7 linked regions of the Homo sapiens genome follow. The gene in region 3 interacts genetically with the main gene of each other region. Each region holds a gene or a part of one and is shown on either strand. Other genes may lie near its edges.

What was found.
Region 1: changes in VPS72 (region 3) and LEO1 together harm fitness more than expected from each alone (negative genetic interaction), as found in Homo sapiens cells (one large-scale study listed by BioGRID).
Region 2: changes in VPS72 (region 3) and MZT1 together harm fitness more than expected from each alone (negative genetic interaction), as found in Homo sapiens cells (one large-scale study listed by BioGRID).
Region 4: changes in VPS72 (region 3) and SLC39A9 together harm fitness more than expected from each alone (negative genetic interaction), as found in Homo sapiens cells (one large-scale study listed by BioGRID).
Region 5: changes in VPS72 (region 3) and PSMD1 together harm fitness more than expected from each alone (negative genetic interaction), as found in Homo sapiens cells (one large-scale study listed by BioGRID).
Region 6: changes in VPS72 (region 3) and ERH together harm fitness more than expected from each alone (negative genetic interaction), as found in Homo sapiens cells (one large-scale study listed by BioGRID).
Region 7: changes in VPS72 (region 3) and YTHDC1 together harm fitness more than expected from each alone (negative genetic interaction), as found in Homo sapiens cells (one large-scale study listed by BioGRID).

Annotation. Positions count from the first base shown.
Region 1 is NC_000015.10:51,964,575-51,969,222, reverse strand, and holds part of LEO1 (RNA polymerase-associated protein LEO1), read left to right. Parts: intron 1-2,718; coding exon 2,719-3,474; intron 3,475-4,648. UniProt on the Homo sapiens protein: Component of the PAF1 complex (PAF1C) which has multiple functions during transcription by RNA polymerase II and is implicated in regulation of development and maintenance of embryonic stem cell pluripotency.
Region 2 is NC_000013.11:72,706,998-72,710,908, forward strand, and holds the end of MZT1 (mitotic-spindle organizing protein 1), read right to left. Parts: intron 3,349-3,911; coding exon 3,325-3,348; 3' UTR 1,370-3,324; downstream 1-1,369. UniProt on the Homo sapiens protein: Required for the recruitment and the assembly of the gamma-tubulin ring complex (gTuRC) at the centrosome.
Region 3 is NC_000001.11:151,179,923-151,184,570, reverse strand, and holds part of VPS72 (vacuolar protein sorting-associated protein 72 homolog), read left to right. Parts: intron 1-77; coding exon 78-254; intron 255-4,648. UniProt on the Homo sapiens protein: Deposition-and-exchange histone chaperone specific for H2AZ1, specifically chaperones H2AZ1 and deposits it into nucleosomes.
Region 4 is NC_000014.9:69,404,637-69,409,284, forward strand, and holds part of SLC39A9 (zinc transporter ZIP9), read left to right. Parts: intron 1-4,648. UniProt on the Homo sapiens protein: Transports zinc ions across cell and organelle membranes into the cytoplasm and regulates intracellular zinc homeostasis. Participates in the zinc ions efflux out of the secretory compartments.
Region 5 is NC_000002.12:231,167,495-231,172,142, forward strand, and holds part of PSMD1 (26S proteasome non-ATPase regulatory subunit 1), read left to right. Parts: intron 1-3,071; coding exon 3,072-3,218; 3' UTR 3,219-3,227; intron 3,228-4,648. UniProt on the Homo sapiens protein: Component of the 26S proteasome, a multiprotein complex involved in the ATP-dependent degradation of ubiquitinated proteins.
Region 6 is NC_000014.9:69,391,186-69,395,833, forward strand, and holds part of ERH (enhancer of rudimentary homolog), read right to left. Parts: intron 3,728-4,648; coding exon 3,640-3,727; intron 1-3,639. UniProt on the Homo sapiens protein: May have a role in the cell cycle.
Region 7 is NC_000004.12:68,325,274-68,329,921, reverse strand, and holds part of YTHDC1 (YTH domain-containing protein 1), read left to right. Parts: intron 1-4,648. UniProt on the Homo sapiens protein: Regulator of alternative splicing that specifically recognizes and binds N6-methyladenosine (m6A)-containing RNAs.

The sequences.
Region 1 (4,648 bases), on a different chromosome or scaffold from region 3:
CTTTAGGGGGCTGAGGTGGGTGGATCACCTGAGGTCAGGAGTTCGAGACCAGCCTGGCCAACATGGTGAAACCCTATCTCTACTAAAAATACAAAAAAATTAGCCAGGTGTGGTGGCGTGCGCCCATAAACTTGGGAGGCTGAGGTAGGAGAATCGCTTGAGGGAGGCAGAGGTTGCAGTGAGCCAAGATTGCACCACTGTACTCCAGCCTGAAGGATAGAGCGAGACTCTGTCTCCAAGAAAACAAACGAACAAAAAACACAAAGAAATTGGTTTTATTGTTGAGTTATAAATGTTCTTTGTATATTTTGGATAAAGACACTTATCAGATACATGGTTTGCAAATATTTTCTTCCATTCTGTAGGTTGTTTTTTCACTTTCCTTTTTTTTTTTGAGACGGAGTCTTGCTCTGTCGCCCAGGCTGGAGTGCAGTGGCGCAATCTCGGCTTACAGCAACCTCCGCCTTCTGGGTTCAAGTGATTATTCTGCTTCAGCCTCCCAAGTAGCTGGGACTACAGGCATGCACCACCACGCCTGGCTAATTTTTGTATTTTTAGTAGAGATGGGGTTTCACCATATTGGCCAGGCTGTTCTCAAACTCCTGACCTCGTGATCCACCCACCTCAGCCTCCCAAAGTGCTGGGATTACAGGCGTGAGCCACTGCGCCTGGCCTTCACTTACTTTTTTTTTTTGGAGACAGAGTCTCCCCTTTCATGCAGTGGCACGATCTCGGCTCACTGCAACCTCCGCTTCCTAGGTTTAAGGGATTCTTATGCCTCATTATTCCCAGTAGCTGGGATTACAGGCGTGTGCCCCCATGCCCAGCTAATTTTTGTATTTTTAGTAGACAGGGTTTCACCATGTTGGTCAGGCTGGTCTGGAACTCCTGACCTCAGGTGATCTTCCCACCTTGGGCTCCTAGAGTGCTGAGATTACAGGCATGAGCCACCGCACCCAGCCAAAAGATTTTATTGTCCTCTAAGACATTAACCAGTTTTGAACTTAACTTAGCAATATTATGTATTTATTTATTTATTTGAGATGGAGTCTTGGTCTGTTGCCCAGGCTGGAGTGCAGTGCTATGATCTTGGCTCACTGCAACCTCCATCTCCTGGGTTCAAGCGATTGTCCTGCCTCAGCCTCCCAAGTAGTGGGCTCACAGGCGTAAGCCACCATGCCTGGCTAATTTTTGTATTTTTAGTAGAGATGGGGTTTCACCATGTTGGCCAGGCTGATCTCAAACTCCTGACCTCAGGTGATCCAGCCACCTTGGCTTCCCAAAGTGTTGGGATTACAGGCATGAGCCACTGCGCCGGGCCTACTTTCTTAATAACGTCCTTTGCTGCACAAAAGTTTTTCATTTTGTGGAAGTCCAATTTATGTTTTCTTTTGTCTTCCATATCGTCTTAGTTTTTGAAGCATAATTTTACTGAATATAAAATTCTTGGTTGACAGTCTTTCTTTTTAGCACTTTGAATGTGTCCTCTTATGGATGGCTCTGGGATTCCTTGGTTTCTGATGAAAAATCAGCTGTTACTCTTATTGAGCGTTCCTCATATGGGATGAACTGCTTCTCTTTTGCCCGCTTTTGGAATTGTTTCTTTGTCTTTGACAGTCTGATAACAATGTTTCTAGGTGTAAACCTCTGTAAGTTTATCCTACTTGTCATTTGTTGAACTTGTTGGATGTGTAGATCTATATTTTTCATAAATTTGGGAGTTCTTCAGCTATCATTTATTTATTCTTTTGAGACAGAGTCTCGCTTTGTCACTCAGGCTAGAGTGCAATGGTGTGGTCTCGGCTCACTGCAACCTCCACCTCCTGGATCCAAGCGATTTTCCTGTTTCAGCCTCTCAAGTAGCTGGGATTACAGGCTTGCGCCACCATACCTGGCTAACTTTTGTATTTTTAGTAGAGATGGGGTTTTGCCATGTTGGCCAGCCTGGTCTCGAACTCCTGACCTCAAGTGATCTGCCCGCCTTGGCCTCCCAAAGTGCTGGGATTACAGGTGTGAACCACCATGCCTGGCCTCAGCTATTATTTAAGAATCTTTTTCTGCTCATTTCTCTTCTTCTGAGACTCCATTATGCATACATTGGTATAACTTAAGGTGTCCCATAAATCTTCTAGACTCCGTTCCTTTCTCTTTATTCTTTTTTCTTTCTGTTTCTCAGATTGGACAGTCGAACTGAGGTATCTTCAAGTTTACTGATTCTTTCTTTTTCCTGCTCAAATCTTTGGTTGAGCCCCTCTAGTGACTCTTTGATTTTAGTAAATATATTTTTCTTTTTCTTTTTCTTTTTTTTCTTTGAGACAAAGTCTCACTCTGTCGCCCAGGCTGGAGTGCAGTGGCTTGATCTCCGCTCACTGCAACTTCTGCCTCCCGGGTTCAAGTGATTCTCCTGTCTCAGCCTCCTGAGTAGCTGGGATTACAGGCATGTGCAACCATGCCTGGCTAAATTTTGTATTTTTAGTAGAGACAGGGTTTCGCTATGTTTGTCAGGCTGGTCTCGAACTCCTGACCTCAGGTGATCTGCCTGCCTCGGCTTCCCAAAGTGCTGGGATTACAGGCGTGAGCCACTGCACCCGGCCTTAGAATGTTAATTCTAACAGTTTTTGCCAGTTTCTTCATTGCTTTTATGTTGGGATGGACTTTGGGACTGCCTTACTCTGCCTTTTTTTGCTTATGTTATCCTATGTTTATATGACCCCATAGATTCTGATTCTGGATCTGACTCAGATTCTGATCAAGAGAATGCTGCCTCTGGCAGTAATGCCTCTGGAAGTGAAAGTGATCAGGATGAAAGAGGTGATTCAGGACAACCAAGTAATAAGGAACTGTTTGGAGATGACAGTGAGGACGAGGGAGCTTCACATCATAGTGGTAGTGATAATCACTCTGAAAGATCAGACAATAGATCAGAAGCTTCTGAGCGTTCTGACCATGAGGACAATGACCCCTCAGATGTAGATCAGCACAGTGGATCAGAAGCCCCTAATGATGATGAAGACGAAGGTCATAGATCGGATGGAGGGAGCCATCATTCAGAAGCAGAAGGTTCTGAAAAAGCACATTCAGATGATGAAAAATGGGGCAGAGAAGATAAAAGTGACCAGTCAGATGATGAAAAGATACAAAATTCTGATGATGAGGAGAGGGCACAAGGATCTGATGAAGATAAGCTGCAGAATTCTGACGATGATGAGAAAATGCAGAACACAGATGATGAGGAGAGGCCTCAGCTTTCCGATGATGAGAGACAACAGCTATCTGAGGAGGAAAAGGCTAATTCTGATGATGAACGGCCGGTAGCTTCTGATAATGATGATGAGAAACAGAATTCTGATGATGAAGAACAACCACAGCTGTCTGATGAAGAGAAAATGCAAAATTCTGATGATGAAAGGCCACAGGCCTCAGATGAAGAACACAGGCATTCAGATGATGAAGAGGAACAGGATCATAAATCAGGTAATACATTTATGAGAACCAGAATGGCTCAGAAAGAAGCATTCAGATACAGCAGGGACCCATTTAGTCTTTATTCCCATCTTTATTACCCTGTTTTTTCTCTTCTGTCCCCTCCCTTTCAAACTTTTCTAACTCTAGAATACATTTTGCTTCTTTTAAATCTTTCTAATCCACTTATTCTTTCTTACTCCTTTCCCTTCCATTTGTTAATGGATAGGTCTGGGGGAAAACAATTTAAAGAGGACTTAAAATTGAGTCTTAGAGGGAGGGATATGGTGTAAGAAGAGCTGATAATGAGTTAAGTTGATTCCATTTCTGTGGATAACTGAAGAGCATGCCTCATGTGAGAGAATAGATTAGCCTGGGGAAAAAAACCATACCATTGAAGTGTCCCCACAGAGCAGCTGTACTGAGATGTGGGCACCATTGCTGCAGCTCAGCTTTTTGAGATCCAAAATTTGATCATCCAGAGATGGTCAAGCTCTAAGGAGTTTACTCAAACTAGTCAAATTTACAAGATATTAATGTATAAAATTGAATTGCAAAATTGTTTCAAGAGGATCAGTTATTTCTCCCTTATCACCCCATATGTTTCCCCGGGGGCAAATCTAGCGTGGATGGCAAATTATAATAATCAGGAGGTTGCCCAGGGAGTATAATATGTAGAAAGTGCAAACATGGCTGGGTGATCTCAATGGACAGTGTTACTGAGCCAAGACAGATTGATGGGTGTATCCTCACCCTACAGAGACGAGCTTGGGTTACAGCACTCATTCCCTAAAGACTACAGGAGGCATACACCTGAACTTTGGTTCCTGGACCTGCTTTTATCATTGCCATTTAGACTATTCTGCTCAAGTTAACACATTCTTCATATAGAATGTACAAAAAATTAGAGATCATATTTCTTTGTATTATATAAAAGTTACCTTAATTAAGTTGAAGTCTTCCTGAAATACCTGGATTGCTTCATTTCCATAGGTGATTGATTATATTAATTATATTTTGATCCTATCTTCTTAGCTTAAATATGAGGGCATCTAACACACACCTCACAGGACAGGATTCAGAAACCACATCTTGGTGTTATTAGAAGAGGAGGGCAGCATATTTCCAGAGATGAATATAGATCTGTGTAGACTATGGGACTGCAGTAAGTTTTCAATAACTAATT
Region 2 (3,911 bases), on a different chromosome or scaffold from region 3:
AATGCTGTAGGACAAAAAAAAATGGAGATGGGCAATGGTCTTTGGAAGATTGGCAAGGTTTAAGATTTAATATATATGTTAAACACAATACTCTTTAAATAAAAATCATTTTTTTCCAGGAAAATTATATTCCCTTCTTGATTTCCATTTGCTGATAATATCTTTGTTACCCAGGCTTAGAAACTCAGTCACCTTATTTTCTTTTCTATTTTCCCCATAACCTGCCATTAAGTCCTATGTTTATTTTTTGTAATGTCTCTTGAATCTACCCAGATGTGAGCATTGAGGCCTGGGTTACTCAGTAGTGTTCTAACTAGTCTCTGCTTCTAACCTCTCCCTGCTCAAATCAAGCCTACATGTCACTAGCAAAGCAACTCCCAAAAAAAGCTTGACCATGTCCCCTTCTTTCTCTAATGCCTATGGAATTAAAGTTAAACTTAAAAAAAAATGTTTAAAAGCTGGCAATTCCACTGCTGGGTATACACTCCAAAGAACTGACAAGGACCTGAACAGTTATTTGTATACCAATGCCCATAACATTGTGGCTATTGTGAATAGCCTTTTCAGAATAGACAAAAGGTAGAAACAACCCAAATGTCCACCATATATATAAAAGAATACCTGTCTCCCATGTATATATGAGACATATTCATCCTTAAAGAGGAAATCTGGATACATGTTATAACATGGATAGATCTTGGAGACGTGCTGTGTAAAATAAGACGAACACAAAAGGACAAATATGATTCCACTTATATGAGGTATCCAGAATAGTCAAATTCATTGACAAAAAAGTAGGAAACTGTTTACCAGGGGCTGGGAGGAGGAAGCAATGGGGAGTTACTGCTAAACAGGTACAGAGTTTCAGTTTGGGATAAGAAAGTTCAAGAGATGGACAATAGTGATAGTTACAATACAATAAGAATATTCTGAATGTCACTGAACTATGAAACTTAAAAATGGTTAAAAAGGGCAGGGCATTGTAGCTCATGCCTATAATCCCAGCACTTTGGGAGGTTGAGGCAGGCAGATCATCTGAGGTCAGGAGTTTGAGACCAGCCTGGCCAACATGGTGAAGCCCCGCCTCTACTAAAAATACAAAAAATTAGCCAGGTATGGTGGCAGGTGCCTGTAATCCCAGCTACTCGGGAGGCTGAGGCAGGAGAATCATTTGAACCCAGGAGGCGGAGGCTGCATTGAGCCAAGATCATGCCAATGCACTCCAGCCTGGGTGACAGAGTGAGACTCCATCTCAAAAAAAAAAAAAAAAAAAGGTTAAAATGGTAAATTTTATGTTCTGTATCTTTTGTCCTATAGAAACACAAGTTGAATTAACAAAAGCATATATTAAAACAAAAGTACAGGCCAATACCACCAAAATGGTTTTATTTTTGTCATTGACAACAAGCACAACACTGCAATTGTATCATTATTTTGTTTAGTTTCTTAAATATTACTTAAGTATGCATTAAAAATATGTTTACATTTTAAAAATGTGACACTTTAAAGAAGTCCTCTGTAAACACGATCCCTTCTCAATATATTTTCCTGCTTTGTTTCATACATAAATAACTTAATCTACAAAGTCATAAATAATACTATCAACTCTTATGGCCTGGAAGTATATACAAATTTTGGAGTCTGACAAAAGTGTTCTTTATGATTTTATAAATAACACATAGTATTTGTAGTGTTGATTATAAATCAAATGACTTTTTACAAATTCCTACTGTCTCCTCAACCTGTTCTACCAGTAACAGATCTTCCAGTTTACTTGGTTGGTAAAGATGCCAGGCATTTAAAAAGTCAAAATGGTCAAAATTCTATATTAAAAAAAAAAAAAGGCAGAGAAGGTTGCTATTTAAATATTACCAAATCTTAATAAAACCACTTCAGCTTGTCTGAAAAACAAAAAATGCTAGTAAAGAGTGAATGCTTGTACAATCATATAAATGGTACTCAATAAAATCTAAAATTTAAGAAATAATAAAATCAGATGAAATCCATATTAGTTTTGCAAAAAAACTCCACTGAGATTCTATTACAGGAACAGAATCAATACTATTCTACATTTTCTAAAATTTATTTCTAATCTTCACTTTGATGAGTTAAAATTTTAAAGGCAAGAATAATGACAAACAAAACAATTCTGAAAAGCCATACTTATAATCCTTGACATCAAGATGTTAAAAAGGTTTTTTAAAAAAAGCCATACTTGAGATTCCTAATATAGAACATTTGATTGTTTAGTTTTGTTTAATGACTGGAAATCCTTATTTCTTCAAAAAATAGCAAGTATCCTTTGAAACACATCACCCATCTAATAAGATTGTTTAGTTTTGTTTAATGACTGGAAATCCTTATTTCTTCAAAAAATAGCAAGTATCTTTTGAAACACATCACCCATCTAATAATTTATTAAATAACCATTCAAGATTTATTAGGTAAGCACTAAAATTACTTTTATGTAATAAAAGTAAATAGGAATTTTGCATGTTTGTTGTTTCATTTTACAAATTTTTTTATTCCGTTATTTATAGGATATAAAACTTTAAGAAAACATTCTCAACTAACATTCTCATTAGATGTAAATGATTCAAATTACAAATAATACTAACCTAAGCATTGTCATTACTTTTAAAATCCAAGTTTCTCAAAGTTTGATTTTTTTACTCAATACAAAAATGACCTGGTTCACACTATTAGCTGCCCAACAAACTGTTTGAAAAACTAAATATTCTTTGTTCAAGAGTAGATTACAAGAAATGTTTTCCATGCTCTTATTTCAAAAAACAAGATTCTGATATACATAATGAATCTAAATAAAAATTCACAAGTGGTGGCTGAAATCCTGTCAACTTTCAGCCCAATACAATATAAATCCACAGTTATAATGCATAAACAATTCAAAATTAAAGTTTATAATGGAAATGTCAACAAGTCATAACTACTACACATTACTACTGATGGGTTCCACTATACTTCAACCTGGCACAGCAGATGTGCACATCTGATAGACAGACTGCTTAGAAAATTAAAGCTATCAGAGCTATAAATAAGGAATACATAAATATGAACATAGCAATGCCAAAGCATTAGAGCTGTTAAAAAAAGTGAATAAGATGTGATGTAAACACATCTGATAGTTCTCTCTGTAAGCCACTTTCCACTGATTTATAAAGCTATGGTTTTATAATTCTTTTAAAAAGTAAAATTTTTCTACACTGCTGCATGCAGTAATTTCATTGTACATTCTCAACTACAATGCAATCTTCAAACCCTCTTGCAGAGCTTGACATATCTCATCAGAATTTCTCCAGAAAGTCAGCTTGTCATATTTTCAGCAGCCTAGAACAAGAAAGTAAGATTCATTACAATAAAACCATGGAAAAAGAGGCATCATGAAGATAAATTTGTCAATACTGCACTGTCATTAACAAACAACTATTCCCCATAAAACAGAACCACTTTTATCACAGTAATGCAGTGCTTTTCATGTTTTGCTATACATCAGGACTACCTTTTGAATGTACAGTTAACAGTCCACAGGCTAACAGTGGAAAATAGTTATATCACCTAAAATAATAGTTAAGAGCACAAAAAACATACTGCTACTTGAAACATTAACCTATGGCAGACCTGTTGCCACAGACTTCATTAGTTTGTCTGTTTCTGTGTTTTATTCTAGTAATAGGGATTAAAAATGAAAAAGACCTTTCATGCTACAAGGCAGAGAGAACAAGAGCAAAAGATGAATAATGAACATCTTATCTAATCCTGTCTCATCTACATCCCTAACTACTACTCTTTCCCAGGTGATTCTGAAGAAATTCCAAGATACCATATCATCAATAAATACTTTGATACATTATTTCTAGAGACTTAAACAAATCACCATACTATTATCCTAC
Region 3 (4,648 bases):
GTACAACATTTCAAAATAAATAAATAAAATATGTGGACATGAATTCAAAGATTTCTTCTTATCTCACTCTCTTCCAGGTCGGAAGTCTATGCGTCAGTCTACAGCTGAGCATACACGACAAACGTTCCTTCGGGTACAGGAGAGGCAGGGCCAGTCAAGACGGCGAAAGGGGCCCCACTGTGAGCGGCCACTAACCCAGGAGGAACTGCTCCGGGAGGCCAAGATCACAGAAGAGCTTAATTTACGGTCACTGGGTAAGTCTGTGGTTTCAGAAAAAGTGAGTAGAGGGGCTGAGGGGCATGAGAAAAACCATGAGACCTGGAGGACCAAAGAACTGGAGAGATGGAAATTTGGGATGATGGAATCAGAAGGAAGAAATGGCGGAGAGTAGGTAATTAGGTGCAAGAGTCTAGGCAGTTATGAGCACTCTGAAGAACAAGCTAAGGTACTTTGGTGTAAAATAAGAGTTGTATAGAACTGAGGTCAAATCCTCGTTCTGCTATTCATTTGCTTTAAGTCTGTAGGTAAATTACTTATTCACATTTTGCTTTTCTTGTTTATAAAATGGGGTATATACCTAATGACTCAGGAAATTTAGGCAGGAGGATCACTTGAGGCCAGGAGTTCATAACCAGCCTGGACAACATAGTGAAACCCCATCTCTTAAAAAAAAAAAAAGCAGGGGGTGATAATGTTGACTTTAATGATAATCATGAGAACGTGAAGTCAGCAGATTAGTCCTTCATGAGATAAATTGCTTTAAAAATCTCTTCATTTTATGGTATTGCTTTAAAAATCTCTTCAGTTTGGGCCAAGCGCAGTGGCTCATACCTGTAATCCCGGCACTTTGGGAGGCCAAGGTGGGTGGATCACTTGCAGTTGGGAGTTCCAGACCAGCCTGGCCAACATGGTGAAACCCTGTCTCTACCAAAAATACAAAAATTAGCTGGGCATGGTGGCGCATGTCTGTAATCCCAGGTACTTGGGAGGCTGAGGCAAGAGAATCATTTGAACCTGGGAGGTGGAAGTTGCAATGAGCCGAGATCACACCACTGCACTCCAGCCAGGGCTACAGAGCGATTGGTTTGGACCACTGTAAGGAGAGTGACTCCCAGGTTTTCCTTTCTTTTTTTTTTTTTTTTTTTTTTTGAGACAGAGTCTTACTCTGTCGCCCAGGCTGGAGTGCAGTGGTATGATCTCGGCTCACTGCAAGCTCCGCCTCCTGAGCTGGAGATTCTCTTGCCTCAGCCTCCCAAGTAGCTGGGATTACAGGTGCCCGCCACCATGCCCAGCTAATTTTTTTGTATTTTTAGTTGAGATGGGGTTTCACCATGTTGGCCAGGCTGGTCTTGAACTCCTGACCTCAGGTGATCCACCCGCCTCACCCTCCCAAAGTGCTGGGATTACAGGCTTGGGCCACCCCGCGGCAATTCCCAGGTTTTCAACATCAGTAACTGGCTTAGGAGACCCTGAAGGAGGAGCAAGTTCAGTGGGGAAAAAACAAATTTATTTTTGAACATGTTGAATTTAAGGAGTTTGTGAGCAATTCATGCAGTGATGAGAGGTCAGTTAAATATGCAAATCTGGTGTTCCAATAAGAGATCTGGGCTGAAAATACAAATTTGGAAGTCTTTAGAATATGGGTGGTAATTGACAATATTGGAGTGCATCTGAGCATGTAGGGAGAAAGCTCAGAGTGAGAAAACAGAGGCCTGATAGAGTCCTGCAGACACTAAAATGTGATAGTTTCATACAAGAGGAGGAGCTTTGAAAAGAGCCTGGAAGTGACCAACGAGTTGGAGAAACCCAGGAGAGTTTGTGTTAAAAATGCCAGGAAAGAGAATGTCTCAAGAGAGTAATTGCTGCTGAGACGATGATTAGTAGAACTGAGAAGTGCCCATTGGTTTTGGTGAGATAGAGGTCAGACATTACCTTAGCACTTTTTGGGGACCAAGTCGAATCAAAGTATATTGGGGAGCAAAACTTTTCAAGCTTGGCCATGAAGGGTAGAAGAGGGAATGGAAGCTACAGAGGGGTGTGAGATTAAGGTAAAGTTGTTTTTATTTTATTCGAAGATATTAGAAATTATGTCTTTCATGAGAAAGAACTGAGTTTAAAGAAAGAGAAGAAAAAACGGTTATTAATAGTGTAGGTTTTTGGAGATGGGAGGCAAGGCTGGGAACCAGAGCAGCATGGTGGAGGAATTGGCTTCAGATGGGGGAAGGGAGAAAGAAAGTGTGGTGGCCGGGCGCCGTGGCTCACACCTGTAATCCCAGCACTTTGGAAGGCTGCGGCGGGTGGATCATCTGAGGTCAGGAGTTCGAGACCAGCCTGACCAACATGGAGAAACCCTGTCTCTACTAAAAATACAAAATATTAGCTGAGTGTGGTGGCACATGCCTGTAATCCCAGCTACTTGGGAGGCTGAGGCAGGAGAATCACTTGAACCCGGGAGGCGGGGGTTGCGGTGAGCCGAGATCGTGCCATTGCACTCCAGCCTGGGTAACAAGAGTGAAACTCTGTCTCAAAAAAAAAGAAAGAAAGTGTGGCTTAGCTGAGTGCAGTGGCTCATGCCTGTAATCCCAGCACTTTGGGAGGCCAAGGAAGGAGGATCGCTTGAGCCCAGGAGTTCAAGACCAGCCTGGGCAACATAGTGAGACCCTGTCTCTGTTTAAAAATGTGGCTTACAGTTGTAGGTTTGTAATCCAGAGGGAGGGCATGGCGGAGGTTCTCACCTGATGTCTTTTTCATTATGCAGCACCATCTGTCAAACATTAAGGATACAGCTGGAAGCTTGAGGAGACTGAGGAGCATTTAAATAGTTATTGATGTGGGATATTGAGCAGTATTGAGGGACCTGCTGAAGGCTAGGACCATGAATTTATGGTGGTTCCAGTCTGTGCTGTTATTTTTCTCCAGTAGCACTCAGCAGTCCAGATCAGGGCAAGGGAATTATTGACAGGAGAGTGACTGAAGTGATTGAAATGATACAGTGAGCAACCTAAGCATGATTTAAAAAGGAAAATGTGACTGGGCGCGGTGGCTCACATCTGTAATCCCAGCACTTTGGGAGGCCGAGGCAGGCGGATCACAAGGTAAGGAGTTCGAGACCAGCCTGGCCAACATGGTGAAACCCCGTCTCTACTAAACATACAAAAAATTAGCCAGGCATGGTGGTGCGTGCCTGTAGTCCTGGCTACTCGGGGGGCTGAGAATCACTGAGGAGAATCACTTGAACCCGGGAGGCGGAGGTTGCAGTGAGTGGAGATCGTGTCGCTACACTCCAGCCTGGGCAACAGAGTGAGACTCAAAAAAAAAAAAAAAGTAAAGTGACATGGAAAAGAAGGTTGTTAGAGATGAGGTGATAAACTGTGGCCATGCAGTGTTGAAGGGGCTACCCATGTGCACTTCGAAGTCACCAGGGTGACCCTAAGATGATGGGAATTGGGGTAGAGACGAAGAGTGGAAACCACTGCCAAAGTCTTCAGTGAATGAAGGAGTGACCATGACTAGGAAGGAGAGAAGTTAATCTAGACTCTTGGCACAGGTCTCAAAAGAGAAGGGAGTTTGCTGGTAGGCAGAAAAGCAGTGCTCTGAAAGCTACAGGGTGGGGCCCAGTAGGACATAGGTATATCCTGTAGGGATGTAAGAGAATGAGCAACCTCCACCAGAGGTCTGCAGAGAGGAGTGGTGGCCTCAGTGAATGACCAGGTTTCTGTTAAGGCAAGTCATGGAAGGAATGCTGAGTGAGGAGCTTGAGGATATAGATGAGTTGGCAGATTACAGAGCACGAGTTCCAGAGGGTGTAGGCAAGTGTTTGAAAGTAGAGGGGTTGGGCCAGGCGTGGTGGCTCACGCCTGTAATCCCAGCACTTTGGGAGGCTGAGGTGGGCGGATCACGAGGTCAGGAGTTCCAGACCATCCTGGTCAACATGGTGAAACCCCGTCTCTACTAAAAATACAAATATTAGCTGGGCATGGTGGCACGTGCCTATAGTCCCTGCTACTCAGGAGGCTGAGGCAGGAGAATTGCTTGAACCTGGGAGGGGGAGGTTGCAGGGAGCCGAGATTGTGCCACTGTACTCCAACCTGGCGACAGAGCAAGACTCTGTCTCAAAAAAGAAAAAGAAAGTAAAGGGGTTGAGGCGTTGGAAGACTGGCTCAAAGGAGAGAAAGCAGTATTATCAAACAGTTCAAGTGCAAGAGAGGTTCAATCATTGGAAGGGTTTCCAGAGTACTCTTTTTTTTTTTTTGAGACGGAGTCTTGCTCTGTCACCCAGGCTGGAGTGCGATGGCACAATCTCAGCTCACTGCAACCTCCGCCTCCCAGGTTCAAGTGATTGTCCTGCCTCAGCCTCCCGAGTAGCTGAGATTACAGGTGCAAGCCACCACGCCCAGCTAATTTTTGTATTATTAGTAGAGACAGGGTCTCACCATGTTGACCAGGTCTGTCTCAAACTCCTGACCTCAGGTGATCCACCCGCCTAGGCCTCCCAAAGTGCTGTAATTACAGGCATGAGCCACCGCACCTGGCCTCCAGAGTACTCTTTTATGGTCAGACTTTAGGGAATTGTGTTCATCATAACCATATTTAAGGACACAGAAATCTGGAGTTCATTCAGAGGAAGGGGACGAGGAATATTTTGATT
Region 4 (4,648 bases), on a different chromosome or scaffold from region 3:
TCATGGAAACTTCTCGGCAATTTGTTTGGAATCCAAAGGTCTTGTTGTGGGGTTTGGTTTGCATTACTATTTACCATTCTATTTGGAGAGGCCAGGGCTTTTCCTCTACCCTCCCTGCTTTATACTATTTTTCTTAGTATTTAACTCTCTTTTCTTCATTATACTTACTCTCATTTTAAGCTTTGTTTTGTTCTTTCGTGTTTTAAAGTTTTGTGTCTGTATTAGTCCATTCTTACACTGCTAATAAAGACATTTCTGAGACTGGGTAATTTATAAACGAAAGAGGTTTGATTGACTCACAATTCAGCATAGCTGGGGAGGCCTAAGGAAACTTACAATCATGGCAGAAGAGGAGGCAAACACATCCTTCTTCATGGGGCGGCAGGATGGAGAAGTGCTGAGCAAAAGGGGGAAAGCCCCTTATAAAACCATCAGATCTCGTGAGAACTCACTGTCACAAGAACAGCAAGAACTCACTATCACAAGAACAGCATGACCTCCCACCAGGTCCCTCGCATGGGAACTACAACTCAAGATGAGATTTGGGTGGGGACACAACCAAACCATATCAGTGTCTGATTATAATAACTGACTCATTCATAATAAGTATCTTTAGGGGTTTGAGTTACCCGCAAATCAAAGGTTTATTGTGTCTGAAGAACAGATTTATTCAGTATGCTTCTGCCTCTACAATAGGTTCTCTTTGAAGTAGATTTAACAATGTTACATTTTTAAGGACTTTTATATTGTCTGGTACATTGCTCTTACCCTCTTATGGTAATACAAGAGATTTTATACCTGTTTGGAATTTCATTTGTAAATTCTAAGATTTGAGCCGGGCATGGTGGCTTATACCTGTAATCCCAGTGCTTTAGGAGGCTGAAGCTGGAAGTTTGCTTGAGGCCAGGAGTTTGAGACCAACCTGGGCAACAAGTGAGACCCTGTCTCAGATGAATGAACGTAAATTATAAAATTTTAAACTTTGCAATCTCAGTAAATTTATCCATATCTGGAAAGAAATCATCAGCTTGTCTTTTCTCAGATTGAACTACAGATTATTGTTTCATAAGGATCCTTGATAAAACTAAGTTTGGATCAAATAAAATCCGGTTGCAATATGATTCAATATTATTTTCCTGAAAAACTTTGTTTTCTCCAGGATACTATATTGATAAACATAATTAAGACTTATCTGCATAATAATATTAATAATGTTTATTGAGCTCTTTCTGTATACCAGGCAATGATATGCACTATCTTATTAATCCTCAGGACCAAGACTATGAGATACTGTTAAACCTCACTTTACAAATGAGCAAACTCAGGCTTGAAGAGGTCACAGACTCTGGTAGAGGTGTGATTTGGAACTAAGTCATTTTGATTCCTGTTGCCAAATCAGTCACTTGACTACTAAATGTTGCCTTTCCTAATGAATGCTGTGTAAAGAAGGAATGAAAATAGGATCTACCTAAATTGATGCCTTTAGCTCCCCAAATTAGGAACATCTTTCATACCTTCCACAGTATATCTCATGCTTTCTGCCTAGTCAGTGGAGTAGAACTTGAAACTCCAGAGGTAAACAGTCTCCAAATACCATTGAAACCTATAAGAAATAAGTTAATATGTCTTAGATGCCTTTTAAATTAACACCTGCCAATTTGGAATCTGAAGTAGTTCCTATTGTGAACTATCCAAGATGAATTTCACACTTGACATCCTCACAGGTTAGTCGTAAATTGTGCTGTTCAAGAAGTGACATCCTTTTCAAGAGAAGATGACATGAAATGGATTCAGAATGTTTCTGTATATGATAGTCTTAACCTCTCCTCTAATTAAAGAATTTAATGATGAGACTTTTGTTGAATGATAAGATCCCCTTCAGCTCAGTATGGAATTCCACACTGGGCTGAGCGCAGTGGCTCACGCCTGTAATCCCAGCTACTCGGGAGGCTGAGGCAGGAGAATTGCTTGAACCTTGGAGTCGGAGATTGCAGTGAGCTGAGATTGTACCATGGCACTCCAGCCTGGGCAACAGAGCGAGACTGTCTTAAAAAAAAAAAAAAAAAGTAGTAGTACTAAGTATGAGTACTGGTATTTCTTAAAACCTATAATGAAATTACAGAAATCTCAGTCTTCCTTGAATACTAATATTCAGTTTTTAACTTATTGAAATAAAATGGAAATAAATATTAGTTAGACTGGAAATTCTTTGTTTTTTTTTTTTTTTTTTTTGAGATGGAGTCTTGCTCTGTCGCCCAGGCTGGAGTGCAGTGGCGTGATCTCAGCTCACTGCAACCTCCCCTTCCCAGGTTCAAGCAATTCTCCTGCCTCAGCCCCCCCAGTAGATGGGATTACAGGTGCGTGCCACCATAACCAGCTAATTTTTTGTATTTTTAGTAGAGACAAGGTTTCACCATGTTAGCCAGGATGATCTGGATCTCCTGGCCTTGAGATCTGCCTGCCTCGGCCTCCCAAAGTTCTGGGATTACAGGCATGAGCCACCACACCCAGCCCTGGAAATTCTTACATGGAAATTCATTTTTAAATGAAAAGGTCTTGAGGGTAACTAATAGATAATTACATCAAACTATCTATTGCAAACCCTGTATTTATCTGACGTTAATTTCCTTCCTTCCTTTCTTTCCTTTCCTTCCTTCCCTTCCTTCCCTTCCTTCCTTCCTTCCTTCCTTCCTTTCTTCCTTCCTTTCTTCTTTCCTTCCTTCCAAATTTCACTCTTGTTGCCCAGGCTGGACTGCAATGGCATGATCTTGACTCACCATAACCTCCGCCTCCCAGGTTCAAGTGATTCTCCTGCCTCAGCCTCCCAAGTAGCTGGGATTACAGGCATGCACCACCACGCCCCACTAATTTTGTATTTTTAGTTAGAGACAGGGTTTCTCCATGTTGGTCTCAAACTCCTTACCTCAGGTGGTCTGCCCGCCTAGGCCTCCCAAAGTGCTGGGATTACAGGCGTGAGCCACTGCGCCCGGCCAATTTTCTTTCTTTTTTTTTTTATTTTGAGACAGAATTTTGCTGTTGTTGCCCAGGCTGGAGTGCAATGGCACGATCTCGGCTCACTGCAACCTCCTCCTCTCAGGTTCAAGAGATTTTCCTGCCTCAGCCTCCCAAGTAGCTGGGATTACAGGCGCCTGCCACCATGCCTGGCTAGTTTTGTAGTTTTAGTAGAGACAGGGTTTTTCCGTGTTGGTCAGGCTAGTCTTGAACTCCCGACCTCAGGTGAATCCGGCCTCCCAAAGTGCTGGGATTACAGGCATGAGCCACCGCACCCGGCCCTGCTATTATATTCTTTACGGTTCTCTCTTAGTCAATTCCTCATCATTCTAGTCCCCTTTTATGCTTTTATAGGTATTCCTTTTTTCTTTCTTTCTTATTTTGAGATGGAGTCTTGCTCTGTTGCCCAGGCAGGAGTGCAGTGGTATGATCTTGGCTCACCACAACCTCTCTCTTTGGGTTCAAGTGATTCTCCTGCCTCAGCCTCCCAAGTAGCTGAGATTACGGCTGCCTACCAACACGCCCGGCTAATTTTTGTATTTTTGGTAGAGACAGGGTTTTGCCATGTTGGCCAGGCTGTTCTCAAACTCCTGACCTCAGTTGATCAGCCCGCCTTGGCCTCCGGAAGTGCTGGGATTACAGGTATGAGCCACCATGCCCAGCCCCCTTTTGTAGGTATTCTTTATGTTAAACTTTCTCTCTTCAAATTACTTTATGCTTTCTCTTTGATGAAAGGACCCTGACTGATAGAGGTAGGTAATGGATCATAAAATCAAATAAGGCTGAACAGAGAATTAAGCCTGGAGTAAAATAAGACAGCCCCAGTGTCATGATATATGGCAGCTGACCTTCAGTGTCAGTGCCTGGGAGTCATTAGGGAGAAGTGAGAACTGTGGGCATCTAAAGGGCACATATCATTTGATGACACCAAATCTTCCTATTTTTCCAAAGCTAGAAATCTGGATTTTTATATGAAGTCTCCTGAATTTTATCCTTTGGCTACTTATTCAAATATTGTATCAGTGCGTGGGCCAAACAACCCATGTTTGTGAGTCTACAAGCCTCTAGACTGCCTGATTTCTAAGCCCTCTGAATGTAGAAGGGGTGGGCAAGCAAGTAGAGGAAGTAAGTTACAGCATGGCAGTGGGGATGGGAGAGACAGAAAAACATTTTGAATTATTACACAACGTCAAAGTGCAGTTGTTTAGAATCACTTAGTAGAGGGGAAAACATCTCTATGTTCACATTAAAGACACTATGTTCTCTAATTTGACTATAGTATAATAATTAATGACACATGTCAACTGATATGTCAGGTTCTACGTTGATTTTAACAGTAACCTTGAAAGGGAAGAATTCTTGTCCTGCTTGTAGATAAGGAAACTGGGCCTCAAGTTTAGTAAGTACAAATCCCCTATTTATATAGGCTTTAATTAAATTAACAATTTTTTAAAAGACGCTGTGGAAAATTTGGAAAATACGGTAACGTATAAAAGGAAAATAAAATTATCTATTATCCAACTGTTCAATTAGAATCACTAATAACATTTTTGTTTCTTTTTTTCTATTTGTTTGCATTTTTAACATAGTTAATTATGGTTGATATGTACCATTTACATTCTCCCTTTTATAACCT
Region 5 (4,648 bases), on a different chromosome or scaffold from region 3:
CCACCTATGAATTAAAAGACTGCCTATGTCTGTGCAAGGAAGAAATGAGGAATCCTGTTGAAGGTATAGCCCTACACACACACACACACTCCTTCAAAGAGTGGGAGACTTTGTGTTCCAAAGTGTTTAAGGAAATTCCTGTCCAGTTGTTAGCTGACTACTAAGTTAAATGAGCATTGACTTTAGTGGACACACAAATCAGGGAATACAAACTTTATAGAATAGGAGAAAATATTTTCAAATCATTTATCTGATAAGACAGTTACATCTAGAACATACGAAAAGCTCCTCCAACTCAACAATAAAAAGACAACCTAATTTTAAAACAGGCAAATGATTTGAATAGACATTTCTCCAAAGAAGATGTACAGATGGGCAAATAAGCACATGAAAAGATGCTCAACATCATTACTCATTAGGAAATGCAAATCAAAACCATAACAGGTGCAGTGGTTCCCACTTACAGTCCCAGCTACATGGGAGGCCAAGGCAGGAGGATTGCTTGAGCCCAGTAGCTCGAGGCTGTAGTGCAATATGATTGTGCCTATGAACAGCCACTGGACACCAGCTTAGGCAACATAGCAAGATCCCATCTCTTAATTTAAAAAGAAACACAAAACCATAAGAAGATATCACATTCTACCCACCAGGATGGCTGTAATCAAAAAGACCGCACAGACAAGAATATGCAGAAATTGGAACCCTCATAGAGTAATAGTGGGAAAGTAAAGTTACAGCCACAGTGGAAAAAAAGAATTTGGCAGTTCCTCAAAAAGTTAAATGTAGTCTTATCATATGACCCGGCAATTCCATTCCATACCTAAGAGAAGAGAAAACTGTGCCCACACAAAAGCTTACACACTAACGCTCATATCAGCATGATTCATAATAGCCATAAAACGGAAACAACTTAAATGTCTTATCAACTGATGAATGAATAATGTGAGATAATAATGGAATATTATTTGACCATAAAAAGGAAAGACTTACTGATATATGCTACAGTGTGTGTGAACCTTGAAAACATTATTTTAAGTAAAAGAAGCCAGACGTAAAAGACTGCATATGGTCTGGTTCCCTTTATGTGAAACATTCAGAAAAGGCAAATCTATAGAGACGAGTTAGATTGGTGGCTACCAAGGACAGGGGAAGGGGAGAATGGAGAGTGGCTGCTACTGGGCCCACAGTTTCTTTAGGTTGATGCAGATATTTTTGAATTAGATAGCAGAAGTATTAATAGCTGCACAAGTTTGTGAATGTACTAAATTGTACGCTTTGAGAGAATGAATTTTATGTTAATATATCTCATTTTAAAAAAGAAAACACTGCCTCTGTGTATGTGCAGTGACTCACTCCCCTACCCTCAGTGGCAAGGTCATGGGACCCTTCCTCAGACACTGCATTTGAAAGAGGCAGCTGTAGTTTTGGAAACAAGTAACATTCCTACCCTGCTTCCTGTCCACCATGAGGCAAGAGGAAGTGTTTCATTGCCTATATCTACAGTTGTAATTAGCCTCCCCAGAGAACAGAAAATCGTATATCTTATGCATAGAGGGTGTGAACTTTCCCACCAACATGTAAAGCATTAACAAACCTAGACCATGTATAGCTATAAACAGCCCTTTCCATGTGTTGATTTGGATTATTAGTTTTGGGATTTTTTTTTGTGTGTGTGTTACTGTTGTTTTTGTATGATGAGGCCTTCCTTTGATTAAGTTGGATTATTTCATTCCAGTTAAGCATGAAATAGCATAACCTGGATCCACATTTTCCAAAAAATAGAAAGTCCTCATGTGAACGTGGATATTTTCTTCTGTTTGGTAGGAGATTCATCTCCATTTGGTCCATTAGGTTCAAGTAAACTTTTAGGCTATGGAGGATTAGGACAGTGGCCCTATGCTCCATTCTGGGAGTATTGGCAGTAAGGGCAGGGTCCATTCATAAAATGGATCCTCTTCAAGGAAAGCAAACTTTTTAAGGGAAGGGGTTGTAGAAAAATGTATAGATATGTGTGTGTCAGGAGAAGGGAAATAGTTCGGAGTTCACGAAGCACACCAGTTTTATAGCATGGCAGGGCAGAGTTCTGATGAGTAAAAATTGGATTAGGTTGAACTGCAGAGATGCTTATACATACGTGAATCATTTAACTAATGTACTTGTGCTTCTTTTCCTTCCCAGTAATGTGCTTTGGTAGAAATATGCTTTTTCCAGATGTGCCCTGCCACTGTTGACTGATTTAATTACATAGAGCAGCTTTCCATTTCCTTTGACACAGGCAAGCAAATAGAATAAGATTAGCACACTAGAGAGGGGTGAATAGTTTAGTGTTTGAATTTACCTTCTGTAATATGTTTGGGAGAGGGCTTAATAGAATTGCTGCTACAGTCTACTTCCCTTTTGTTTCCCATGTATTTTTTCATCGGCTTGCATCACGTGGATTTATAGATTAAAGTGAAAAACCCGGGATATCTGTGTTATTCTCTCCATCATTCTGAAATTGCTGGAGAAAAAATTGGCTTTTAATTTATACACTCTCGTGTTCAAAATGATTATCATCTCACAAATCATACAGTGTGCATTAGACTGCTTCTCAAACTTCAGTGTGCATCAGATTGACTGGGATCTTGTTAGAATGCAGATTCTGCAGATCTAGGGTGGGGCCAGCTTTTCTGCATTTTTAACAAGCTCCAGATGATAATGATGCTTCTGGCCCAGGACCATATCTTGAGTAGGAAGGAATTAGGATACTATATTTGGACAGTAAACATTCTTCCTGCAGTGAGACTGAGGCTGGTAGTCAAGGCCATGGCTGGGAAATAACTATTCTTAAATTGGGATGCATCATCCAAGTAGAACAGCATCACATGTTATACCATCTAGAGCTACTGGGTTAAGTTTGCAAATACTTCGTATAGATCACAGTTATCTTTATCCCAGTAAAGTTCTACTCCAGTTTTTCACTTCCAAATCATTTAAGTAGTTTTAAAGTACCATTTAACAAGTATTTACTCTAGATTGTGGAGCACGCTTGAAATATGAGTGTACGCTTCTGCACGCCCCTGTGTTTCCAGCTCTCTATTGGAGGCATCATCATTCTGAAGGATACCAGTGAAGACATTGAGGAGCTGGTGGAACCTGTGGCAGCACATGGCCCAAAAATCGAGGAGGAGGAACAAGAGCCAGAACCCCCAGAACCATTTGAGTATATTGATGATTAAGGGCCAGAGGTGCGTGTGCAACAAAATTATGAAGGGAAACTTCTTTGTCAATACTTCACAAATGTTTTTTGCAAGGACATCATCTCACGTTTTTCCTTCCTTTTGTGTTTAATCCTTATTTACCTAAACAGTATTAAAACTTCCCCGTTTCAACCTTTTTCTGCATATATAACCACAAATTCCTTTTTCTTTCCTCTTTGACTCGTACTCTACTCACGTTATTCAAAGTGGCTGGTCTGCAAACTATTTTTATAGGTCCATAAGGAGATAGGAAGCTTACTCCAGAATCTGTCTGCTCAACGCTTCTTTCATCAAGAAAGTCTTCCCCAAAACATCAGCTGAACTGCAGTTTGCTTAGTGATAGAGCTGATTTACATTCTGATGTAAGCTTCTTGTTGTGGATCAGTTATAGTTGTGGACTGGCACTGGCCCATAGGTGACACTTTTGAGTAGCACAAATATAGGCTTCTCACTGATTTTTCTCTCTCCCCATCTCCTTCGACAGTATTTTTGGCATAGAAGCCTTAACATTCATTCATTCTATGATGGTGCTATTGAATATCTACTGTGTATAAGACATAGTGCTTATAGGGACTTTGAGGTCAGTTAGACTAACCACAAGGCTGTGTCCATTGACAAAGATCATTTACTATATCAGTGTCTTAACAGTGTTGAAAGGGGTCTTTAGATGGGAAAGTTTGGAGTAATCTAATTTCATGAAATTGTCGTTCTTCATTTCCCCATTTTCTTTTGAGTGTTCATCACATATTTGAAGACATTGTGAGACATAATCAAGGTTTCCTAATTCCACCCAAGCACAAACACGTTTTCAGACAATTTTTTTTTTTTTTTTTTTTTTTGAGACGGAGTTTCGCTCTTGTTGCTCTTGGCTGGAGTGCAATGGCGCAAACTTGGCTCACCGCAACCTCCGCCTCCTGGGTTCAAGCGATTCTCCTGCCTCAGCCTTTCGAGTAGCTGGGATTACAGGCATGCGCCACCACACCCGGCTGATTTTGTATTTTTAGTAGTGACAGGGTTTCTCCATGTTGGTCAGGCCGGTCTCAAGTTCTGGACCTCAGCTGATCCGCGAACCTCGGCCTCCCAAAGTGCTGGGATTACAGGTGTGAGCCACCACGCCCGGCCAATTCATTCTACTCTTTAAAAAAAATAAGGACAGTATCATTTGTTATATTTAAAGGTCTGGTTGCAAATCTAGCATGCTGTGTGTTAGATACTGACTAGCAATTTAGGAAAGATTTGCAGAAATCTCAGATAAATATTAAGGTAGAAACCTGCCATTAGTAGGAAAATATATTTATACCTCAGGAAGACTATTAGTTTGGGCCTTAGAGAAAGGCAGATTTATACTAACCTTCCTATTTTCTAAACTTACTTTTGAAAATTATCTTTCAGCCTTGATAGTTTCCTAA
Region 6 (4,648 bases), on a different chromosome or scaffold from region 3:
TAGCAGCTTTATTCATAATTGCCAAAAAATAGAAGCAACCAAGATGCTCTTCAATAAGTGAATGGATAACCAAACCATGGTACATTCATTCAAGGGAATATTATTCAGCAATAAAAAGAAATCAGCTATGCAGCCACACACACAAAAAGTAAGAACCATAAAAGCATACTGCTAGGTTGGCCAGGCATGGGGGCTCATGCCTGTGATCCCCAGACTTTGGGAGGCTGAGGTGGACGGATCACTTGAGGTCAGGAGTTTGAGACCAGCCTGGCCTACACAGTAAAACCCGTCTCTACTAAAAATACAAAAAAAGGTAGCCAGGCATGGTGGCGCAGGCCTGTAATCCCAGCTACTTGGGTGGCTGAGGCAGGAGAATCGCTTGAACCAGGGAGGCAGAGGTTGCAGTGAGCTGAGATTACGTCACAGCATTCCAGCCTGGGTGACAGAGTAAGACTCTGTCTCGCACGCCAAAAAAAAAAAAAAAAAAAAAAAAAAAGCATATTGCTAGGTTAAAGCAGCCAGTCTGAAAAGGCTTCATACTCCGTAACTCTAACATGACATTCCAGAAAAGGCAAAACTACAGATATGGTAAAAAGATCAGGGGTTTGGGGGTGGTGGCAGGGAAGGAGGTATAGGTGGAGCAATGGGGATTTCTGGTAGTGAAACTACTCTGTATGATACAGTAAAGGTAGATACACGTAATTATACATGTCAAAACCCACAGAATGTTCAACACATACAGTAAACCCTAACATAAACTGCGAACTTTAGTTAATAATAATCTATGAATATTAATTCACCAATCCCAACAAGTGTAATCAGACTAATAGAAGATGCACTAATAGGGGAAACTAAGAAGGGGAGGAAAGAAGGCGTATGCTGGAGCTCTGTACTTTCCAAACAATTTTCCCATAAGCCTAAAACTGCTCTAAAAACATGGTCTTAAATAAAGTCTTTAACTGCTCTTAAAAAAAAGGGGGGAGGAAAAAAATGCTCTGATCTACAGGGGAATATTTACTACAAGAAAAAAAAAAAAAGAATAATAAAATTACCATTTGGCAACCACATCATGTGAGAACTTATTTAATAATTATTTTAACATTTTTTTGTTTTAGTTTTTTAAATGGGAAATAAATCACCACTTTTAATTTTTAGAAAAAGAGCTACCAAGTCATGAAAAGACATGGGGGAAACATAATAAATGCACATTGCTAAGTAAAAAAAGCCAGTTAAGAAAAAGCCACACACGATAATGATTCCAACTATATGACATTCTGGAAAAGACAAAACTATGGAGACAGTAAAAAGACCAATGGTTCCCAGAGGTTGAGGGTGGGGTAGGAGGGGATGAATAGGTAGAGCACAAGAAATGTTTAGGGCAGGGCAGTGAAACCATTCTGTGTGATGCTGTAATGGCGGACACATGACACTGCGCATTTGGGAAAATCCACAGTAATGTAGGACATAAGAATGAAACCTAGTATGAACTATGAACTTTACTTAATGACAATGTATCAGTAATGAATACTGGTTCACCACTGTTACAAATGCACCACACCAGTGAAATTCATTAATAATAGGGGAAATTGTGTAGGGGTGAAGAAAGAGAGTAATATCGGAAAAACTGTAGTTTCTGTTCAATTTTTCTAGAACCCTGAAACTGCCCTGAGAAATAAGAGTATTGCAGAATCAAAGACCAAACATGATAATGTAGGTTAGGTAACAATTTGCTAAGAGAGCCTGCATACAAAATCTACATCAATAGCAGGCAGAAATGTCAGCAGAGAAATGGATCTGTAAAGAGATGAAGAAAAAAATGCCATGTTCTTCTTTAAGAATTAGAGTAGATGGCCTGGAGTGGTGGCTCACGCCTGTAATCCCAGCACTTTGGGAAGCCGAGGTGGGTGGATCACTTGAGGTCAGGAGTTCGGGACCAGCCTGGCCAACGTGGCGAAACCCTGTCTTTACTAAAAATACAAAAATTAGCTGGGCGTGGTGGCACACACCTGTAGTCCCAGCTACTGAGGAGACTGAGGAAGGAGAATCATTTGAACCAAGAAGGCAGAAGTTGCAGTGAGCTGAGATGCACCACTGCACTCCAGCCTGGGCGACAGAGTGAGACTCTGTCTCAAAAAACAAAAAGAAACAAAGACACCTGCACTCATACGTTTACGGCAGTACTATACACAACAGCAAAGTCATGGAATCAACTACGTATCCATCAATGGATGACTAGACAAAGGAAATGTGGTGTATGAGAATGCATGCACACACATCCCATGGAATACTACTCAGCTATTAAAAAAAGAATAAAACCATGTCTTTGCAGCAACATGGATGGAATTGGAGGTCATTATCTCAAGTGAAGTAACTCAGAAAGTCAAACATTTAATGTTCTCATTTATTAGTGGAGGCTAAATGATGTGTGCACATGGACAGACAGAGTGGAATAACTGACACTGGAGACTACAAAAGGTGGGAGAATGGTGAGGGATGAAAAATCACTACTGCGTACAATGTACACCAGGTGATGGCTACAATAAAAGCCCAGACTTGGTTGGCGCGGTGGCTCATGCTTGTAATCCCAGAACTTTGGGAGGCTAAGGCAGGAGAACTGCCTGAGGCTAGAAGTCTGAGACCAACATGTGCAACACAGTGACCCCATCTCTATAAAAAAACCAAAAAATTAGCCAGGTGTGGCGGCAGGTGCCTCTAGTCCCAGCTATTTGGGAGGCTGAGGCAGGAGGACTGCTTGAGCCCAGGAAACTGAGACTGCAATAAGCCATTATCACCACTGTACCCCAGCCTGGGTGACAGAGCAAGACCCCGTGTCTTAAGGAAAAAAAAAAAAAGGCCCAGACTTTACTACTATGCCATATATCTATATAAGAAGACTACACTTGTATCCCTTAAATCTATTAAAACAACCTATTAAAAACAGACAGACACACAAGCCTATAGTGTTTGAGCTTAACCAGAATATATAAGGGATACCTGTAAAATATTTCCATACTGTAACAAAATAACATGTGACAAATAAGAAGAGAATATTTATAAAACAACAAGCAGCTCTGGAAAGTCACTCATTATATACATTAGTTTAAAAAAAAAAAACACCTAATACTTGTAGCAAGGAGGATACTATATACATAATTAATGTTTAAAATGTTCAACCGGCCAAGGCGGATTACTTGAGGTCAGGAGCTCGAGACCAGCCTGGCCAACATGGTGAAACCCCATCTCTACTAAATACACAAAAAATTATCTGGGTGTGGTGGCCCATGCCTGTAGTCCCAGCTACTTGGGAGGCTGAGGCACAAGAGAATCACTTGAACCTGGGGGGCGGAGGTTGCGTAAGCCGAGATCGCATTACTGCACTCCAGTCTGGGTGATAGAGCGAGACTCTGTCTCAAATAATACATAAATAAACAAACAAATAAATAAAATGTTCAATAATTATGGTCCATCCTAAATATCTGCTTTCCCTCCTAAAATTAGCAATTCAATAAATTTGGAGGGTTGGAAGTGATAAAGGCAGGGCCTGGGGTGGATGGACTATTAAAAAAAAAAAATTTGGAGGGGAAAAACCCAGTTCCTAAATGAGACATTTTTCTACCCCTTGATTAGTGTTAAACTCACCTTCCATGCATTCATTCACAGATTCGTAGTCAGCATAAGTTCTGCCTTCTGGCCTCTTGGTAGGCTGTACCAGCAAAATGGTGTGAGACTGCAGGGGAAAACATGATTTCAATATAAGTTTCTATTTGAGAAATTCATAGTATGATAAAAAAAAATCCCCATTTGTAATGCAATAATGATTGCTAGTTATTAAAATGTAATTAGAGAGGCCAGGCATGGCATCCCATGCCTATAATCCTCATCCTCTGGGAGGCTGAGAGGGGGAAAATCACTTGAGGCCAGAAGCTTGAGACCAACCTGGGCAACATAGCAAGACCCTGTCTCTACAAAAAAATAAAATTTGCCGGGTGCATGCCTGTAGTCCCAGCACTTTGGAAGTCTAAGGCAGGAGGATTCCTTGAGCCCAGGAGGCTGAGACTGCAGTGTGCCATGATCACACCATTGCATCGGAGAGTGAGGCCCTATCTCTTAAAAGAAAAAAAAAAGTCATTAGGATACTTTTCCCACAAAAATATTGATGTCTTAGTCTAAGTATAGTATCTAGCTGGATTCACAACTCTGCTGTACGGTCTCCCTAAGTCTCCCAGTCCTACCGTACTTACTGCCTACAAGTAATCAGTATAAGCTACCTTGCCCTCCTTTTCCTTTTCTATCTTTTCTTCCCAACTAAATTATAAACCTGCTTAGGTTTTCTGTCTCCAGTGGTCACTTTCCATCTTTAATGCTCTTAAGTCACTAATAAAAACTCAGATGGGCTGATGAAAGGAAACAAAAGGGGAAATAGTATAATAATCACAAGCATGGTTTCAACTTAAGCTTTTTTTCCAACCTCAGCGTAAGAGCAAAGTCACATTTTATCCAGGGGTTAGACTTAACATTAAAGCAGTAGATAAATTAGCAATATAAACATATCATAAGAATTACCCTTAAAAATCCATTAAACTATTCACCTAGTAGATGACTTGCCTTACTGGGCTTTCTCATACCAAAATCACATATTAGAATCACA
Region 7 (4,648 bases), on a different chromosome or scaffold from region 3:
CACTGTATACTTATCTTACCTTGTTCAGTAACTACCTTTATCTAATGTGGGACACAACAAAGGCGTATTTAGTCTAAAGTTACATGTATTTGATTTGTTTTGTATATTAGTAATAAAGCAGTAAATGAATTGGACAGTTGCTTGAAATGTTGTCTGGCGTATCTGTATAATTTTAGTGATTTAACATGTCACTTAAGTTATTGAGGAATGGGAAATAAGTACTATGACTTGGCTAACAATTTCGGAGGTAACTAGTTTAGTCGTGGACAGTATTTTTTAAGGAGGTTAGCAAATGATGTTTAGTTGCCATTGTGATCTTCTGAAACTGAGTTAAGATTTAACTGTATTTATTAGAAAAATAATCAGGCTTATTTTGAACACTGAGTTGTCACTATTTTTAGGTCCTTACTGCACACTGAAGTATTGTACACAAGAAGCTCATTATTTAAGTGATCTTTACGTGGCATACACAAATGTATTACCTGTAAAATTAATTTTAGTTAAAAAGTGTCTGAAAGGAGATGGTTACTTTGTGAGTTTTAAGTTGTTTTTGGGTATTAGATCTTGATGAGCCTGAAGGGGTCGGATGAAAAAGAAGAAAAATGCTATGCATATGATGGAAATCAGCCTAAGCCAAGAAGAGCATGGAAACAAACTATGGGGTTGCAGGGTTGTGGGGAGCAGTGGGAGGGCATATGGATGTGTGAGTGGGATAGGGAGCTACCTTTTTTTATGAAGGAGATGGTTAGGAAAAGAGAAGAACAGAGGGCAAAGATGGATAAGAATGAATGAATGTGAGTCAGCCTAAATGTTTATTGTAGGATAGTGAGGAGCTGTGAAGATAGAGGGAGTGATATATTACAAATAGCATACAGTCACTTACTGTGTAGTGACATACCCATCAACAAAGAATCTTGTCCCATAAGACTGTAGGACTCGTAAGAGGTACCTATAATACCATATTTTACTATACCTTTTCTATGTTTAGATACACAAGTATTTTCCATTGTGTTACATTTACCTACACTATTCAATACAGTAACATGCTGTGCAGATTTGTAGGCTAGGAGAAACAGGTCATACCATATATCCTAGGTATGTAGTAGGCTATACCATTTAGGTTTGTGTAAGTGCATTCTGTGATGTTCACACAATGAAATCACCTAATGAGTGTATCCCTGTCATTAAGTGACACATAACTGTATTAGGTTGATAATAGCGTAGCAAAAAGCTATGTGCAGAAAAAATACTCATCCCATTATTACTTTCTGTGGGAAAGAGTTGGAAATCATCTAAATTCTTTGAAATAGAAAATTAGTTAAATTATAGTTTGTCTCTTAAATATATGTGGAAGTAATTGTGCACATATCAACATGGAAAGGTATAACAAATGAAAAAATACATAATTATGGTATTGGAATGCAGTGTTAGGTGGTGAGACTGTTAGTGCTTTCTCCCACTTCCTCTCTGTTGCCCCCAGGGGTTTTAAAATATAAACTTGGTTTTTTTGAAATCAAAATTATAATTAAGTTATAATTAAAGTTGAAAATCTGGTGACAATTTGTAGGAAAGGGAGTGATTATTTTTATTTTGTGTGTGTATGTGACTGCTCTGTAAAGGCCAGAGGAAACGTTGTAATGTAACATATTTGCAGGTGTTGCTTTCTTGGGAACAGGAGAGAAAATAATTGCCCATTTTTATGTGGGTTGCAGCAGATTTTGTTTCAAATGTTATTTGTTCTGTTAACCTTCATTTTTACATTACTGATAAGGAAATTCTTAATTTTAAGATGAATTTAATTTTTCATGGATTATTCATTCTTCATATTCCTCTTCATTGACTTATTGACTATTCTACTAATTTGTTTGAAATGTATCAAGCAACCGAAGAGGTAGACAGACTCAATTTGTCTATCCTACTAACGTGAGGTGTAAAATTGTGGGCAGTAAAGTGCTTTTATTATTTTAAAGTAAGTTTATGGGTTTACCTAGAAATAGTATTTTTACATAATAAAACTATAGTTTTAATGTTTTAATACTCAAGTTCTATTCAAGTGTAATTTTACAATACTTTACAGTTCTGGAGGGCTTGTGATATTTCTAACATTGATATTTCCTTAGATAAGTCACTTGAACTCTCTTGAGTTTAAATTCTCTCTATATAGTGAGAATTACATTTGAGTCTCAGAACATTTAAATTTAATAAATAGAAATGGTCAGGACTTTGCTATCAACAGTAACTGCTGTTAATATTTTTTTCTTTTGCAGATATAATAATTATTAGATTTATATTTAAGGACCCTTTGGATATAATAATAACTAGACTTAAGCTTTTTTAGGTGTGATCCCTGGATCACTTACATCAGTAGCATCTGACTGTTAAAATGCAGAATCTTGAAACCCACCTCAAACCTGTTAAATTCTTGATGGTTCAGGTAGTTGGTAGGCACATGGAAGATTGGGACCAGATAAGTGTCATGTTTTAGCTGATAAAGAGAGGGAGGCATAAAAAGCGACTTATTAAGGTTGCCACCTGTAATTAGCTCAAAATAAGGCATGATCTATGAAATACTATTCATCCAGAGTTACATTTACTGACTAGGTGTTATATTCCTTTCATGTCCATTCCAAACAACCCATTTCTGTTTTCATTTAGAGTCTCTCCATTTTTCTTTTCTTTTCTTTTGAGACGGAGTTTCGCTCTTGTTGCCCAGGCTAGAGTGCAATGGCGCAATCTCGGCTCACCACAACTTCCGCCTCCCGGGTTCAAGCGATTCTTCTGCCTCAGCCTCCCTAGTAGCTGGGATTACAGGCATGTGCCACCACGCCCGGCTAATTTTTTATTTTTAGTAGAGACGGGGTTTCTCCATGTTGGTTAGGCTGGTCTCGAACTCCCGACCTCAGGTGATCCGCCCGCCTCAGCCTCCCAAAGTGCTGGGATTACTACAGGCATGAGCCACTGCGCCCGGCCTCCATTTTTCTTTTTAACTTTAATCAACAAACCACTGTCCAGCATATAAGAGCCTCTGCATGGCTGGGCGCAGTGGTTCATGCCTGTAATCCCAGCACTTTGGGAGGCTGAGGTGGGTGCATCACTTGAGGCCAGGAGTTCGAGACTAGCATGGCCAACATGGTGAAACCCCGTCTCTACTAAAAATGCAAAAATTAGCCAGATGTGGTGGCGCATGCCTGTAGTCCCAGCTACATGGGAGGCTGAGGCATGAGAATCCCTTGAACTCAGGAGGCGGAGGTTGCAGCAAGCCGAGATCATGCAGCTGCACTCCAGTCTGGGTAACAGAGTGAGACTGTGTCTCAAAACAAAAAACTGTGCACAGTTTTACATTCTTTGTTAAATTTGCCCTATTTGCAGAACCACTTAGGTCAGAGAGTCCCTTACATGTTCTCAAAGAACTCACAGTAAAGATAAGTTGTATCTGTATGCTTCATAACATAGCTGCTCAGAAGGTAACTGTTAGGTTGCTTGTTCTATGATTGTGATCTGAGAAGAAAGGATAAAATAAGGATGCTACATGGATCACAGACCCTGCAATTTTTCTTAATTTATTCTGAGCCCTGTTTTGCCTCAGGCTTCACAGTTTTCTGTGATGTTCTGGCTGAGATTAACTGTGTTGAAACAGTGAACAGATGTCTCTTGAATCTAGTTGGAACCAGTGCCACCAAAGAATCTCAACCCCAAATGATACATTTAGCTTGGCCTATGCTTTTACTTCTACTTGGATCGTGGGTATTTAATTGCTGATATTTAAATAACAGTGATAATCCCATTAATTTATAACCTTCTTATATTTTGGTGGCTGTAGGTTTTCATTTATGCCTTTCCTATAACTGTTTTAAACTGGCAATTAGAAGAAAAATTTAAATTATTCAACAGAATACAAAGAAAACTAGATCTCTGCCTCTGGATATTCAAGCTTTGATGTGGACTTGTTCTAGTCTTTCTACTTCTGAGAGCCTGAAAAGGGGGAAAAAAAATTCAGTATTTTTGACTCACTCTTGATGGGTGAAGTAAGGTGTATATTAGAAAAAGAAACCAAGCTTTTAAGTGATACTTAGTGGATATTTTCATTACTCACTGACCACTCTTCCATGTATATATATATCACCTCCATCACAGAATATACCACCTTGTTAATTTAACTCTAAAATACTTCTATTTCCCTGGAAAATGTCAAAGTTTTTCCTGAGGTTTAAAACAAGTTATATAAGATCTGAGCATTCAGGCCAGGTGTGGTGGCTCACAGCTGTAATCCTAGCATTTTCGGAGGCTGAGGTGAGAGGATTGCTTGAGCCCATTTATTCACAATCAGCCAAGGCAAAATAGATCCAATCTCTAAAAAATTAAATTTAAAAAAAGGTCTGAGCAGGCAATATTCACTTTCAAGAAAATTCATGTAAGGTTATGTGGCATGTTCACTGGGCAAAGTTACTTATGTTTTCCCTTTTCCATTATGCCTGTGTTCTAGCCCTTCTCTTTGTTTCAAATGTATCCCTGCCTTAGTTCTCTACATAAGGCTTTACCTGGGTTTTCTTTCAAGCTTAACTCTTGTACCACTTCTTTCATGAAGCATTTTGTGATTATTTTTCTTTCTTTCAAAATAGATACAACCACTCCTATTAAAAACAAAAAA